Homo sapiens: one gene and its partners. The protein of the gene in region 1 interacts with the protein of each later gene in a biochemical or structural test. Each region holds a gene or a part of one and is shown on either strand. Other genes may lie near its edges. The genes, in order: RNF10, RPS10 and MEOX2.

Region 1 (3,104 bases):
GCTGTAAGCTCCGCCTCCCGGGTTCACGCCATTCTCCTGCCTCAGCCTCCCGAGTAGCTGGGACTATAGGCGCCTGCCACCACGCCCGGCTAATTTTTTGTATTTTTAGTAGAGACAGGGTTTCACCGTATTAGCCAGTAGGGTCTCAATCTCCTGACCTCGTGATCCGCCTGCCTCAGCCTCCCAAAGAGCTGGGATTACAGGCATGAGCCACCATGCCCGGCCATTGACAGTTCTTTAGAGCAGTTGATACGGATCTTTCTTATGTAATTACAGCAGTTTGTACTGAGAAATAAGCAAGAATTGAGCTTTGGTAAGGAGGGTTCCGAAGTCAAGGAACATGAAATAATTGTGGAGGTGAGGTGAGAAGAGAGGGGGATCCTGAAAATTAACTGCTGGACTTAGAGATGATTAACAAGTGGCTCCCAGGAGTTATGCCAAATACTTGTTTTGTTTTGTTTTGTTTTGTTTTGAGTTGAAGTCTTGCTCCTGTCCCCAAGGCTGGAGTGCAATGGCGTGATCTCGGCTCACTGCAACCACCGCCTCCCGGGTTCAAGCAATTCTCCTGCCTCAGCCTCCCGGGTAGCTGGGGTTGGGTTACAGGCGCCTACCACCATGCCCGGCTAATTTTTGTATTTTTAGTAGAGACAGGGTTTTACCATGTTGGCCAGGCTGGTCTAGAACTCTTGACCTCAGGCGATCCACCTGCCTCAGCCTCCCAAAGTGCTGGGATTACAGACATGAACCACTGCGCCTGGCCTTTTTTTTTTTTTTTTTTTTTAAACTAGGCTTTATTGCTATTGCTTTTTTCCTTTGAACTTTATTTTGAAATACAGAGTTGAAAGAATAGTATTATGAACACTTAAACTTTTGACCTAGATTCACTAATTGTTACTATTTTGCTGTTATATATTTGCTTTCTCTTTTTTCTGTGTTGAAAAGAAGTTGCAGATATCCTGAATGATACTTTACCGCTAAGTACTTAGGAGATACATGCCAAAGAAAGTGGGATATTCGCCTATAGAACCACAGTGATCACATTAGAGAAATTCCACTGCCACAGTAATATCTAATATGGTGCATATTTATATCTCCACATTTGTCTCAGCGTCCTTCATTTTCAACTCAGGGCAGAATCCTGTTACTCCCTGCATTTAGTTGTCAAGTCTCTTTAGTCTCCTTTGATCTATAACCGTTCCTTTGCCCATATCCCCTTTTTTTTCCCTTCCATGGCCAGTTGTTTTATAGAATATCCTACAGTTTGGACTTGTTTGATTTCTCATGAATGGATTCAGGTTACATTTAAACATTTTGGTAAGAATAAGACATAGGTGACATTTTGATTACCTTTTAAGAGTAAAACAATTCACATGTCAAACTATTTGGATACTGTCTCAGTCCATTTGTGTGGGTATAAAAGATTACCCGACGCCGAGTCATTTATCAAAAAAAAAAAAAAAGTTTATTTGGCTCATGACTCTGCTGGCTGGAGGACTGGGCATCTGGTGAGTGCCTCAGGCTGCTTCCACTCATGGTACACGAAGTGAAGGGGTCCCTGCTTGTGAAGAGATCACATGGCTAAAGAGGAAGCAAGGAGGGGAGGAGGTGCCAGGCCGTTTTAAACAACCGTGTTCCTGTGCCCAGTTTCAAAATAGCCTTCAGCCAAGCTATTGAAGCAGCCTTTGTGAAACTGGACACACCAGCTACTTCAGATCCCTTCTGTGGTAAGGGCAGAGGCTGGAGTGCCCAGGGTTGTCAAACACACATGTACTGCCATTCCCACTGGGATCCAGTGGCAGACATCACTCATCAGCTCTTTCAGGAATGAATGCGAGAATAGGTCTCCCATCCCCCAGGGAGGGCATTAATCTGTTCATGAGGGGTCCACCCCCATGACCCATACATCTCCCATTAGGTCCCCACTTCCAGCATTGGGGATCAGATTTTAACATGAGGCTTGGGAGGGTCAAATGTCTAAACCGTAGGAGACCCAAACTCCTAGAGACAAAGGGAGAAGTTCACCAAAGTGGAACATAATGAAGAAAGGTTATTTAATGAAATCGGCATCTGCCAACACAAACTCATCTTGAGTAATAGGCATTCCTCACTTTGGAATATATGATTTAAGGACAAGGCATCCCTGCTTGAACCCCATGGGGTTTGTCTCTTGATATTTTTCCAGGAATAAAATGTTCTCTGCCTTTTAAGTGGCATATTTGCAGTTGGGGCTCATAGTGGCCTTCAGCAGTTACAAAGCTGGCCTTGGCCAAGTGGAATGAAAATTCCTCAGGGGCATGAGGATTGTTCTGATTTTATTGTCCTTGCAGGAATTTTACTGGCCTGTGGTTGGATCTGAAAGTTAATGATGAAGGAGCTATTGGAAAAGCAGACTAAAAGGTAGTGAGGGGCTGTTGAAGCGGTGTCAGGAGAGAGTTTAGTTAGTTTTCATGGCTTTAGGTAACTGAAGTTTAGTAGCCATGTGGTTTAAAACTGGAGGGTACTTGGCTGGGCACGGTGTCTCATGCCTGTAATCCCAGCACTTTGGGAGGCCAAGGCGGGCAGATCACCTGAGGTCAGGAGTTCGAGACCAGCCTGACCAACATGGAGAAACCCCGTCTTTACTAAAAATACAAAAATTAGCCGGGCGTGGTGGTGCATGCCTATAATCCCAGCTACTCAGGAGGATGAGGCAGGAGAATCACTTGAAGCTGGGAGGCAGAGGTTGCGGTAAGCCAAGATTTGCGCCATTGCACTCCAGCCTGGGCAACAAGAGCGAAACTCCATCTCGAACAAAACAAAAAAAACTGGAGGGTACTAGGCCGGGCACAGTGGCTCACGCCTATAATCCCAGCACTTTGGGAGGCCAAGGTGAGGGATTAACTGAGGTCAAGAGTTCAGGACCAGCCTGGCCAACATGGTGAAACCCCGTCTCTACTAAAAAAAAAAAAATCCAAAAATTAGCCAGGCGGGTGCCTGTAATCCCAGCTACTTGGGAGGCTGAGACAGAATTGCTTGAACCTGGGAGGCACAGGTCACAGTGAGCCAATATTGTGCCATTGCACGCCAGCCTGGGCAACAAGAGCTAAACTGTCTAAAAAACAAAA
Region 2 (3,058 bases), on another chromosome or scaffold:
ACTTGGAAGGCCAAGGCAAGAGGATTGTTTTGAGCCCAGGAGTTTGAGATACAGTGAGCTATGATCTTGTTGCTACATTCCAGCCTGGGCAACAGAGTGAGACCCTGCCCCCCGCACCAACTCAAATAAATCAGGGCCGGGCGCGGTGGCCCACTCCTGTAATCCCAGCACTTTGGGAGGCCGAGGCGGGCAGATCACCTGAGGTCAGGAGTTTGAGACCAGCCTGGACAACATGGTGAAACCCCGTCTCTACTTAAAATACAAAAAATTAGCCAAGCGTGGTGGTATGCACATGTAGTCCCAGCTACTCGGAGCATGAGGCAGGAGAATCGCTTGAACCCAGGAGGTGAAGGTTGCAGTGAGCTGAGATTGCATCATTGCACTCCAGCCTCAGGGACAAGAGTGAGACTTCGTCTCAAAAAAAAAAAATAAGTAAATAAATACAAATAAATCGGTTTAAAAAATATCTAAACGTGTTAATTTAACATGTAATCAGTATAAAGAGTAGTGAAATATTTTACATTCTTTTTTTCTTAAGTCTTTGTAATTGGCTGGGTGCAGTGGCTCACACCCGTAATTCCAGCACTTAGGGAGGCTGAGGCAGGCAGATCACTTGAGCTCAGGAGTTCTAGACCAGCCCGGGCAACATGGCAGAACCCCATCTCTACAAAAAATATAAAAATTAGGGCTGGGTGCGGTGGCTCATGCCTGTAATCCCAACACTTCAGGAGGCCGAGGTGGGCGGATCACTTGAGGTTGGGAGTTTGAGACCAGCCTGGAGAAACCAACATGAAGAAACCCCATCTCTACTAAAAATACAAAAAAATTAGCCATGCATGGTGGCGCATGCCTGTAATCCCAGCTACTCGGGAGGCTGAGGCAGGAGAATCGCTTGAACCTGGGAGGCGGAGGTTGCAGTGAGCCGAGATCGCGCCATTGCACTCTAGCCTGGGCAACAAGAGCGAAATTCAGTCTCAAACGAACAAAAAATATAAAAATTAGCTGCCTGTAGTCCCACCTGAGGTGGGAGGATCGCTTGAGCCCATGAGGCAGAGGTTGTAGTGAGCTGAGATCGTACCACTGCACTCCATCCTGGGTGACAGAGTAAGACCCTGTCTCAAATAAGTAAAAGAAAACTGGTGAATTTTGCACACGTCTCCATTTGAACTGTGACTGGGATATAGGACCGGGCAGCATCTTGTCTGCTTTTCTCCCATGGTGGTAATTAAGGCTTTTGTGGGCCCTTCCCTTTACATGTTAGTTCTTCCATAATTACACTCCCTTTGTTATCTAGATGCTGCTGTGAAGTGGGTAAGTCAGTCAGTGTGATAGGAAGTAGGAATCCTTTGGGAGGATTTATAGTTTGGGCTGTGAGTATTGAAGGGTGACATAAGGAAGGCTGAGAAGGGTGCCCCAGGAGAGACAAAGGTGGCTCAGAAGGTATTCCCCACCACTGGTGTAATTTGCTTATATTTAACGGAGTGGTACTTGGCTTTTCCTGCAAGATTGGAGTCAGTGAGTTGTCTTCCCTTGTTCTATAGTAGATTAGATCATATGATGATTCTAAATCGATGTTTCACTTTCTAGCTGGTGCCGACAAGAAAGCCGAGGCTGGGGCTGGGTCAGCAACCGAATTCCAGTTTGTGAGTATCTTCCTATTTGTTTTCCATGAGCCATCACTTGTTCTGGCCTCAGTCTGGTTGCTCTGCAAGTTGTGGGGATGTCATATAGTATGGGTGGGTCCTGTCAACCAGTTCCCTCCTCCCACTTTTTTCCAAATTCCAAATTTTACATTGAGTTGTAGCATGCAAACTTTTGTAAATACATAAATTACTGAAATGAGTCTCAGAAATCAGTACATGTGGCCTACTAGTATTTTCTGTTTCATTAATGCTTGACATTGAACTAAACACTGGAAGGTGGGTGGGCTTAAGAACCAAGATGGTATGAAATCAAATCCTCCATCTTTTTTCAGTTGATGTAATGTTAGGTAGGTTCCCCTCTGCCTCAGTTTCTCCATCTATAAAATAAGGTGATAATTACAGCTACTAAGGTAGTTGTGAGATTAGTTAATCCAGGCATAGTACTGGCATATCATTTTTGTCCTATGGCAGGTCCTCATAGCACACGATTGCTCTCAGATAATGTCATTTGTAAAAAGGAAGCATGTACAGTAGAAACGGTCCAATCCTGGTGCTGGATGCTTTCATAGGAGTATGTATGAACACACTCTGGGTGGGTGGCCATACTCCCACTTTACCAATGAAGAAATGGGCCTAGATGTTAGATATGGCCCCACATCCAGTAAGGGGCAGTGCTGGGATTTATAGCCTGTACTCAGCTCTCTCCCAGCTGTTTACATTTGGGGGCCTCTGGAGTTATAATGAGGCCTGAAAGTTAGCAAAACCTCCAAAGATCAAACCAGAGTGCCGCTCATGCTGATGTGATGTGCTTTCTCTTACAGAGAGGCGGATTTGGTCGTGGACGTGGTCAGCCACCTCAGTAAAATTGGAGAGGATTCTTTTGCATTGAATAAACTTACAGCCAAAAAACCTTAATCTTTTGTCCATTTTGTTTGCATTGTGCAGCCTGAACAGGAACAGTTTAAGTGTCAGAATGTAAATGGGGCAGTACAGGCTTGGTTTGGGGAGTTGTCATTGTCCTGGGTGACACCGGCTGCTGCTGTACTTGGCTTTGGCGTGTGCCCTGCTTTCTCTAGGCAGTGCCTCCCTGCAGAGTGGTGTCCCATATGGTGCTGCAGTTGGAAAACTGGGTCCCTTCTTTAGACCAGCCATGCTGCCTCAGCTCAGCATGGTGGGAAAATTGCTGGTTGGCCTGGAGTCGTGATTTGTGCCTGCTGTCAGGAACTATAAGAAGTACTGGGGAGGGAGGATGAAAGGTAACGACCAAGGAAATGGTGCACTTGGAATCCTTCAATTTATGGAGAAGAAGCACAGGAATGGTGTTTAGGCCAACGTTACTAATCTAAGTCTTCAAGGCTCAGCGTTTGTTGACAAGAATCAAGGGAGAAAACAATGCACAAAAACCACTGTTCAAA
Region 3 (3,738 bases), on another chromosome or scaffold:
TGTTTCAGAATAAGTATTTTCATTTAAAATCTCTTGACATTATTTATTACCAAATTAACAGAAAGTTACATGGTAAGTGTATGATCGAATGGGTTATTAATTTTCATGGGTCATGAGTGGGTTTTTAATTTTCCTCTATATTTGAAATTTTTGATATATAATTTCCGGAATAATAAGTAGCTCATTATTCCTGAAGCTTTCATTTATAATGTTACTTTGTGTACAGAAATATAATATTTCTAAATTTATATATGTTACTCACTACTAATTGTGCACTGTATTTTTAAATATTGGTTTTCACAGTGTTATGAAAATAATTTACATTTTTTTGGTTTCTTACATCACCATATGCACAAGAATGATCAGGTAGAATCCGTACTGTATCTATACATTTTTGGAAAGGGTTTGTATGAAAGATAGAAAAACCCTTTCAAAAATAATCCCTTGTTTTATCAATAGAATTAGAAATTAATAAACTGGATCATTAACTTGTATGATAATATTGTTATTTTATTTTTAAAATTTCCATTTATTTAAATGTTTAATAATTCTAAAATGTTTGTGTACCTTGATGACAATTCTTATGTCCTTACAATGTGTACTTTTATTGCAAATATAACATATTTTTACTAGGTAGTAACTCAGTGGTAAAAACTTTAGGGTACTGATTATAGCTCTAAATTCAAAAGCTGTTGCTCTTCAAAATTTTGTAGAATCAATTCAATGTGAATGTTTCAAATGTATTTAAGTATTCTGCTGTTTGTGTTCATAAGCTTTCTTTCTAAGATGTTAGACGTATGTTTCTTAAAGCTTGCATAGGCTACATTGATTAAAATTATGATTATAAGCTGCTTACTTTCATAGTTTTTTGTTTTTATTGTAGTCTAGTAGAGAGGACAATGGCAAGGAAAGGATAAAAGGGAGGGTGCTGAATTAACTAGGACATGGAAGCTATACTTAAAACACACGTTAAAAGAAGGCGTTTACTTTATATATGTATATACATATATAGGTATATGCACACTCACACCCACACATATATATGCATGCATTACTGTAACTCCAAATTTAATTTCCTGATAATAGTAAATCTGAATTAGAGCATCCTTATTAAATGCATAATATGATTATAAATGTTCCAATTACAAAATTAAATATTAAGCTTGAAGCATATATAGTTTTGTGAAGAGTCCAGCAGGCTTAAGCTGGCAATCAATGATAGTTATAAAAGTCCCTGCAGTTTTTGTTTTCTTTTGTTTTTCCTCTTTATTTAGCTCATTATTCTTCACACACTTCAAGAGAATCCCATAATGCTACAAGGAAAAAACAAATTCGCAGTTATCTTACGTGACTGTGGGCAAGAAAATGACTAAGGTGAAATCATCTGTCAGGCTCCGCAAAACCTAGAGGAGGGTCCAGCTTAGGTTGGCAGATGCCAGTAGAATTTTAAAGGCCTAGAATTTTACTCTTTGAAAATATAGCCTTAAATTTTTGCCAGAAATGACACCCAAATGAAAACTTATTTTTGCAAAGTGATAGTTATTTGCAAATGCAGTAGTGAAATATATTCAGAGTCTGTTGAGGTAGCTTGTCCACTGTCTGGACTGCACAGTAAACATTTGGATGGTTATTCTTAGCCACCCAAAAAACTAGCAAACTAAACTGAGGTGTATTCTTATTAGTTGAAAAGATTAAATGGGCATGCCTCTTATCAAATTAACAATGAATGCAAAGCAAATTTTGCAAATCATTGATTTATGTTGGTAGGTAACACAAACAGGAAACTATTCAGAAAAATAAATATGTGTTATCCGAAACGTAATGGGGACTAGCTTGGTTTTGTAGAACAACAGCAATTTAGCAAATAACTTTCACATTTAAAGAACCATATAAATAATGCTTTAGCACTCACTGCATAGGTTGGAATCAAGTGATGTCTTATTTAATATTATTCAAAGATAAAATGAGGTCTTAGTATGTGTAGTGCCTTTAACAATTAAAATTTTCTCACCTATAGGCTATGCTTACGTGGGAATTTCTTTTTCTTATTTGAAGTATAAACAGATCTGGATGCATTAAACTAGACAGAATGTAGATGTAAAAATGATTGAGACATATTAAAATGACAGGAAAGTCAGAGTTTAGGCATCCCTATTTGGAGGCTTGCTGCCACCCATGTTTCTAAGATTACAGTCTTGTGAATGTCCACACTCAAAATTCAGGGAATTATAAATAATTTTTCCTCCAGAACTATTCTTTGCTCCTGGAAGTAGAGCTGTATAATTTATTTTCTAGAATACCCAGATGTTTAGGAAAGTATAAGTAAGTGGCAACACTTTTGCATATTTAGCCATTAGTTGATAAATCATAAAAGATTTATCCTATTTCTTAATTATCATATTAGACAAGGAAATAGATGTCACACTCAAAGGGATAATTGAAGAGAGTTTGATGATGGCAATTTGATGGTGAGTAGAATGTAGGGAAACCACAGGAAATGATGAATCCCCCAGGGTCTGTCCACAGTTGGAATATATTAGCACCCCTAACCTGAGAGGGTAAATGCAGGGACCTCTTACCAGAATCCAATGAGCGCAACAGGACAGAAGCCTTCTGGAAAAGTTGGGACCTCAGATGGAGGATTGCAGCTCATGTCGAATATCATCCAGTAACCTGTCTTCATGTCCTCCAATCTTCTTTTGTTGCTTCCATTGATCAAACACTATCCGAAGCCAGAACCCCGGAGGGTTAGGTGGATGCAACCCTAAGAGTCAACCGAAGAAGAAATGAGGCAAGCATATCTGGGAGAACACAATAGTTAGGGCTAAACCCCCGCTGTGTCTCTTACTATTGTCACCTCTTGGCCACAAATTTAACTTTTCTCTACCATCGTTTCTGAAAAGGAAATTGAGTTAATATACACAAAGCAATTAGAACAATGTCTGGCTTAGTAAAGTGTCAGTTATTATTTTTATCATCTATCAATGAATGTACAATTATGTAATGCATATGCACCATCTGAAAATAATCTATTTTATGCTACCTGTTTGCATTTTATTACAAATACTGCTATAGGAAATGTAACTTGCCTAAGTAATTACTAAAGATTTAAAATAATCATTGTCCTTAGAATTGTAAACGGCATGAAATTTCCCTGAAATGTAAGGTGAATTCTAGCCAAGTTATGTAAGAGGCTCAAGTTGCCTTTCCCACCCTTAAGATTTCCATTCCACAGCCTCTTTTACTTGGACCTCTCCTAACTTCCTCTTCTCTTGGGTCTCCTGCTACTTCTCCATTGAAAAGCTGTTTTCAGGAAGAGTGCATATTGAGCAAAATAAAGAATAAAATGAGGACTCTTTTTTTTTTTTTGAGACCGAGTTTTGTTCTGTTGCCCAGGCTGGAGTGCAGTGGCGCAATCTTGACTCACTGCAACCTCTGCTGTCCGGGTTCAAGTGATTCTCCTGCCTCAGCCTCCTGAGTAGCTGGGACTACAGGCGCCCGCTAATTTTTATATTTTTAGTAGAGACGCGGTTTCACCATGTTGGCCAGGCTGGTCTCGAACTACCTACCTCAAGTGATCTGCCCACCTCGGCCTCTCAAAGTGCTGGGATTACAGGTGTGAGCCACCGCGCCCGGCCAGAACTTAACTTTTTAAAAGGAGTGTACAGAGGGGCAGGGCATTTAGTCAAGAGGAAACAGAATTTAAATAAAAGGAATTCAAATATGACAATGAAATTT

Evidence for each region.
Region 2: of the proteins of RNF10 (region 1) and RPS10, one has a biochemical effect on the other in vitro, tested with the Homo sapiens proteins (one study listed by BioGRID).
Region 3: the proteins of RNF10 (region 1) and MEOX2 form a complex in vitro, tested with the Homo sapiens proteins (one study listed by BioGRID).

What each region holds. Positions count from the first base shown.
Region 1 is NC_000012.12:120,572,141-120,575,244, forward strand, and holds part of RNF10 (E3 ubiquitin-protein ligase RNF10), read left to right. Parts: intron 1-3,104. UniProt on the Homo sapiens protein: E3 ubiquitin-protein ligase that catalyzes monoubiquitination of 40S ribosomal proteins RPS2/us5 and RPS3/us3 in response to ribosome stalling.
Region 2 is NC_000006.12:34,416,954-34,420,011, reverse strand, and holds the end of RPS10 (small ribosomal subunit protein eS10), read left to right. Parts: intron 1-1,587; coding exon 1,588-1,643; intron 1,644-2,464; coding exon 2,465-2,506; 3' UTR 2,507-2,558; downstream 2,559-3,058. Other genes in the region: RPS10-NUDT3 protein, read left to right, coding at 1,588-1,643. UniProt on the Homo sapiens protein: Component of the 40S ribosomal subunit. The ribosome is a large ribonucleoprotein complex responsible for the synthesis of proteins in the cell.
Region 3 is NC_000007.14:15,676,489-15,680,226, reverse strand, and holds part of MEOX2 (homeobox protein MOX-2), read left to right. Parts: exon of another isoform or gene 1-1,313; intron 1,314-2,579; exon of another isoform or gene 2,580-2,764; intron 2,765-3,738. UniProt on the Homo sapiens protein: Mesodermal transcription factor that plays a key role in somitogenesis and somitogenesis and limb muscle differentiation. Required during limb development for normal appendicular muscle formation and for the normal regulation of myogenic genes.